Regions from separate parts of the Homo sapiens genome. Here region 1 is linked to region 2. The links come from fine-mapping of genetic effects on plasma protein levels. Region 2 holds a variant in brackets. A gene starts in the other region. All regions are shown on their reverse strands.

What was found. A credible set is the group of variants that fine-mapping cannot tell apart. PIP is the chance, under the fine-mapping model, that this variant and not a neighbour inherited with it causes the effect. Protein levels are from antibody-based Olink assays in UK Biobank. Linkage for the fine-mapping came from a reference panel and not from the study's own genotypes, which makes the PIPs less certain.
Region 1: it holds the start of DRAXIN, and the variant in region 2 is the best candidate, but not a certain one, in a credible set for the plasma level of the DRAXIN protein (UK Biobank, PIP 0.59).

Annotation. Positions count from the first base shown.
Region 1 is chr1:11,689,942-11,692,843 of GRCh38, reverse strand. DRAXIN (dorsal inhibitory axon guidance protein) reads right to left here and starts at 1,134. Exons shown (of 7, transcript NM_198545.4): 1 at 991-1,134. It also overlaps a transcript of MAD2L2 not described here. RefSeq lists enhancers at 1,819-2,326, 2,327-2,836.
Region 2 is chr7:55,978,032-55,980,915 of GRCh38, reverse strand. NIPSNAP2 (nipsnap homolog 2) reads right to left here. Exons shown (of 10, transcript NM_001483.3): 2 at 2,651-2,790; 3 at 2,521-2,566. Among named protein-coding and RNA genes, the nearest start is that of NIPSNAP2, 15 kb to the right of the region's middle. The variant G/A (reference allele first, on the strand shown) is at 1,037.

The sequences.
Region 1 (2,902 bases), not on the chromosome of region 2:
CTGAGGCTCAGAGAGGTGCATTCCTTTGTCCGAGATCACTCCCAGAGCCCCAGTGTACCCGACTCCAGATGCATAGTACTGAACCGGTTCCAGACACCAGTGTGTCACTGGGCTGGGAGGTGGGCAGCGTGGAGGGAGCATATAGGGCAGGGGAGACCACCGGGCGGAGAGGATGGCCCAGGGAGCACCCAGCTGAGGAAAGCAAGAAAGACTTGGCGGGAAACCCCAGCCCTCTCTCATCTCATACCCCGGCCCCGAAGGCGGCTGAGACCCTTGACGAGCGGACGGAGAAAAGCCAAAAGCCGGCGGTGGGGAGCAGGAGGGACAGAGCGGGAGACCACAGGCGAAAGACCAGCGCCGTCGGGGGAGCCAGGCTGAGTACCTTCCTGGGCACAGATGGGACGGCGCGGGGCCACCGGCGGTGCTGGTTCCGGGCGCACTCAGCGACCCCGGCCACACACCCCAGCCTCCTGGGCGGCCTCGAAAGGGGCTGGAGGGCACGCCCGCCAGCTCTGCCCGGGGCTCAGGGAGTCTTCGAAGACTTCTTCCAACGGTGGCGGACTGGGGCCCCCTGCCTGAGAGACCACCCGGAGACTCAGAGACAGAGAGACAAAGGGAGACTGGGTCAGGGAGAGAGAAGGCTAGTGCCGAGGAGAGTAGGTGCGAGCCGGGACCCCAGAGGGCGGCGAGGGCGCGCGCGAGGCCGAGTGTCAGAGCGTGGAAAAGTGGGCGTCCAGCGGTAGGTGGACGGATGGGGAGCCCGGGAGCAGAGCCAGGGTCCGTGGGCAGACGCGGCGAGGAGAGGAGGCGGCGGAAGGACTGGCGGATAGACGGGTCCGAGGGCTGGGAAGGAGGCAGCATCCTCACTTCCAGCCTCGGGACCCCGCGCACCCCGCCCCTGGGCGCGCCAGGTAGCCCACCTTTGTCCGGGCTCGCAGCCAGGTGGGGCGGGAGGGGCGGAGCCAGGGGCGGGCCGAGGCCGTGCCTTACCTGTCCGGCCGGCGGGTAGGGGGAGGAGGGGCTCGGGGCCGAGCGCCCGCGGGAGCCGAGCGCAGCCGAGGGCGAGCCGCGGAACGGGGCCGGCGTGGAGAGGTGCGCGGGCAGCCGGAGGATGTGCCCGGGCTGAGCGGGACTGGAAGGAAGGGGGAGTGGGCGGGCAGGAGGGAAGGGGGCGGGAGCGCGGGGAGGGGACAGAGGAGGGGCGGCGGGTGGCGGGCTCGACTGCCCCCAGCCGAGGGGCAGCCCCGGGGCCGGGCCCGGCGCGCACCCGGCCAGCGCGCCCTCGCCAGCTGCGCTCTGAGTTCTGGGCCAGCTCCCCAGAGGCCTAGGCGCCGCCGCCGCGAGGGCGCGGGGCAGACAAAGGAGGCAGACAAAGGCGGGCGCAGCCCAGCAGCCGTGCGGGCACCGGGCGAGGCAGGCCCACTCCTCCCGGTGCGTAAGAGCCGCCTCGGCGCGGCCCAGGGCGCGTGGGACGGGAGGGGCTCCGGCAGTTGTGGCGCCTCTGGAGCGGCCCCGCGCAGGGCGGGCGACAAAGGGCCGCGGCGGGCGGTCCTCGGTGGACCCCAACAATGGAGCGAGGCTGCGCGCTCAGCTGCGGCCGCGTCTGTCAGGGCAGGGGCCCGGGGCCACAAAAGGATTATTCCGCCTAGACTGTCAAAAGGGACGGAAGAAATGCCCAGGGCGGGGGAGGCGGGACGGGGAACGGCGGGGCCTTTGTAGCCGCAGAAAGTGCGCAGAGTGGGCAGGCGGGGTTCTCCGAGAGGTCGCTCCTGGATGTAGGGGTACAAAGGGTCTTCAAAGTGCTACCAGCTCACCTGGGGCGCTGACGGCGCACCTGTGCCCTCTTTCCCGGTAGGGAAGGGAGAAAGACAACCGCCCCAATACACACACACACAAACACACACACACACACACTCACACGCGGCGCGGCTCTCGCCACGCCCCGTCCAAAGCCGGCCTGAAGCTTCTCAGACCGGCCCAACCCGGACAAAGCCAGCGCTGGGGCCGGCTCATCCATCACCGCGCGGGGCGCCGTGTCCTGACGACCCTGGGAGTCTGAGAATGCTGGGTTATGGGTCCCGTGCCTCCCATAACTCACGACGGGGTCGGTGGGGCCACGGACGCTGCAAAGATCAAAGAGCGATGGGGCCGGACTCCCATATGTGGGAAGCAGCGCTCCCACCTGGCGCCCTGAGCTCGCCAGGTGGCTTCCATTTCGACTGTTTTCTTTCTCCAGCGTGTGGCAAATTATGACTTTGAGGTTTTAGAACACAGTTCTGCCGTCAGGCTAAATGTCTGTGTTCCTCTTCTGATGCCGTCCCCTATGACCTCGAGCAAGTCGCCTGACCTCTGAGCTCATGATTATACCTAAATTTCAGTGTTCTAGGCGTGAATGCAGTGCCCTGTGTAAGGAGATAACGTTTCTAAGGTCTGGCCCATAGGAAATGCTCCTGTAAAATTAGCTGCCATTGTTACCGTGATATTATTAGCTTGGTGGGCACCAGGATGGATTGATGAGAACACTGAACTGTTTATTCACTGAAAGGTTTGAGTCATCCATCCCATAAATACCTATTGAACACCTACTATGTGCCGGCACCGGAGGTACAGTAGTAAACAACATGGACAAGAATCCCTGCCCCCATGGAGCTCAGATTCTAGTGAAGGAGACAGAAGATAAGTGAACAAATAAATATAAATGATGTCAGGTGGTGATTAGTGCTATGAAGAAAAGTAAAGCACATTACAGACAAAGCATGAAGGGACGAGGTGTTGTTTTACATAAAGTTATTAGGAAAGGCCTCTTTGCTGGGGCAGTTCTTTTGGCAAAGAAAAGGAGGTAATGAGCCACGTGGTTGTGGGGAGAAGACTTGCAAGCAGAAGAGCCACTGCAAAGGTCCTG
Region 2 (2,884 bases):
GACTCCAACCTCCAATACTCCCCAAGGGCATCAACATGGCAGAAGAATAAAAATTAAAGATACAATGCGAAGCATAAATTATGTTCTACTCAATTCAATGGGCCAAGGGGATGGGAGGGGTGTCACGTAGTCTCGCACCGAACACACCAACCAATTCATTCCCGCGCATTGTGCAGGGACAGGGACAAAGCCATGACAGGTCACGGCAGTGTATGAATTTAACAGGGGTGTCAGAGTGGAGCTTGGTTCCATGGAAGCTTTCCTATGGTATAGATTCTAATGTACAGGGAAAGGCAAAGGGAAGAGTGTAACTGTTTTACACCAAGAGAAAAGCTAAAACCTGCACACTTTTTGAATAGAAAAATTATGATGAAAAAGTATCATACAGATTCAACAATGGATGCAAAAGGGGATCAAGGGCAAGAAATGGAACCTGTTCACACTATTTGCTGACTCTGATATTTAGCTAGTGATCACCACCAGATGCTGGGGCTACAGGACCAAGGGTATGTAAGTACCATGTGCTAACCGACTGCACCACTGGAGCTCCATACGACCAGGGATACATAAATGGTTAACAGAGAAAAGTTCCAAAACGGTCTAAGTCTAACTAACTGAAAACCCATACATCTTTATGACCCAGTATAGTGACCACATCATGTGTACTTTTGGAAGAGTAGCATTTACTTTTTAAATTAGGATCTGATATTAAATGTATCTGATGCGTGACTCATGAATGTTCAGAAATAACATGGGATCAATGAAAATCGAGGACAGGGAAAGAGGGATTCTGCTAGGGAAATGTATGTCCAACATTTCCTTTTCGTCGCATGACATGAGCAGGAATAGACAACCCTGCATTGGAGGCAGTGCCCAGGAGGAAGCCCAGTACACATGATTCAGGTGGGGTCCAGAAAGGGGCCTGGCAACGGGGCCCAGGTTTTTCACCAACACAAAGTCACGCATGGATTTGTAGCCACTCCTCTTTGCTGGGGACCCCAAACCTGCTCTTAGGAGCCCTGGCCTTACCTGAATG[G/A]AGATTGTAAGGCAGGCAGTACTTGTACCCAGAACTGGATGGGTTGGGCAGAATCCCATTATTGGGACCCCTAAAAACCAGGCAGGAGTTAAGTCTTTATGTTCTGCAAACAGGGAGCTGCTGAAAGTTTCAGAGAAAAGAAAAAACGTGATGAAAAAAGAAAACAGAACTCAAGCAGATCAATCTGACAAACTTTGGGGTAATGTATTGCAGGGCAGGAAGGAGACACAGGTATAGCTTGGAGCCCAGAAAGGTAGTCAGAAAAAAAGCTACTTGGGAATGGGGCTCGAGAGGCTTGGAGAGAGAGATGGAGAAGGAAACAAGAGAACCAAAATACATGTCCGATGAAGAATGCACAGCTTAGGTGACAGATTCACCACAGAGAACTAAGGAACGGGCTGAGTAAAACAAGGTGAGTGGCACAGACAGGGAAGTTGGAAGAGCAAGGTGATTCTACATGCTGGGTGTGAAGTGAGAGCACAACATCAAATAGAAATAGGAACAGACAGCCAGAAACCCGAGACAGGAGACGAAGTGATAAGACAGGACAAAAAAGGTAATCCAGGACAACATCGGCATAGGGAAAAATTCCATTTTTATGAGAAAAGACTTAGAAATAAACATCTGCTTTGTTTTAAGGGCATTTTTTAATAAAGAGAAATGTGCTGGAATGAGCAAGAAATTCAATGCTATTGTTACATTTCATAAGCTATCTTCAAAAACAAAACAATAAAAAACAAAAGGTTTTTCTTCTAAAAAGTATGCTGATTATAGGGACAAAATTGTTTGCTTTCTTAAGAACGTAGTAGATATTAAAGGTAAAAACAAAACAAAACTAAAAACCTTTTTCTTCACATTTGCTCACCATGGGTCATTAAAATACTATTTCTGTTAACTTAAAAGCTGGTAAGCTTAGTTCTCCCCTTTCGTCTTAAAGTTTACAAATTCTGTAAGCAGGTTTAGATCGCAAATCATAGGAGAATCAGCGGAAGGGACTTGGATCCTGGAGAACAGAGGAGTTGGGAAGAAATGGCAGCTATGTTCAAATACATACAGGACTCTCACAGGGCAGTTTTACTTAGGGGAATCAATGAAGGACTCAGAGATGTGAATTCTTATTCCTAACACTCAGAGCTGTCCAGAGATGGAACTTACTTCAGGACAGGCAGTCAGGAAGGTCTGTGGAAAGGACTCCAGCACTGGATAAGTAGATGGACTAGACAGCCTGGCAAAGTTCCTCCAAACACAAGAGTCTGGTAACATTCTAAAGTCTGATAGCCTATATGATGATTTAGCTGTGTGAGTGCTTAAAATCAAAACGCCTTCGGCAATCCCACATGAAGCTCAGTTTAAGAGCCTCTGAATGTTCAGCTTCAAAAGAGAGGGATGAAAGATCTCTCTCTATGCTATCAAGTGTTAGTGGAATTAACTAACAAATAAAGTCATTATTTTTCCCCAAGTAAAGGATAGTTTGGTATACACACCAAATTTTGTTGTATGCTTCTAGGCATTCCGGTTTAACATTGTGAACTGAAACAAAAGAAAATTCAACGATAAACTTAGGAACAAAGGGGAAAAAAAGTCAACTATGAAGATAGCAAACCTGTCACTCACACTGTAATTTGTATAGATTGCTTGTTTCCTTTTTGGCTAGGAGATTGGAGTGGGCATCTTTTCTTGGATCAACTTTCCGGACAAATAAGGATTTTAGCCAGCTGTCTTCTCGAGATCTGTTGCTGGAAGATGTCCATGTCCTATGGAATAACAAAGGTGTTGTCACGCAGTATACTGTTTTCATATATCCATCAGTTAATCTGGCAAACACAGTGAGCAGCTATTCTAGGCACC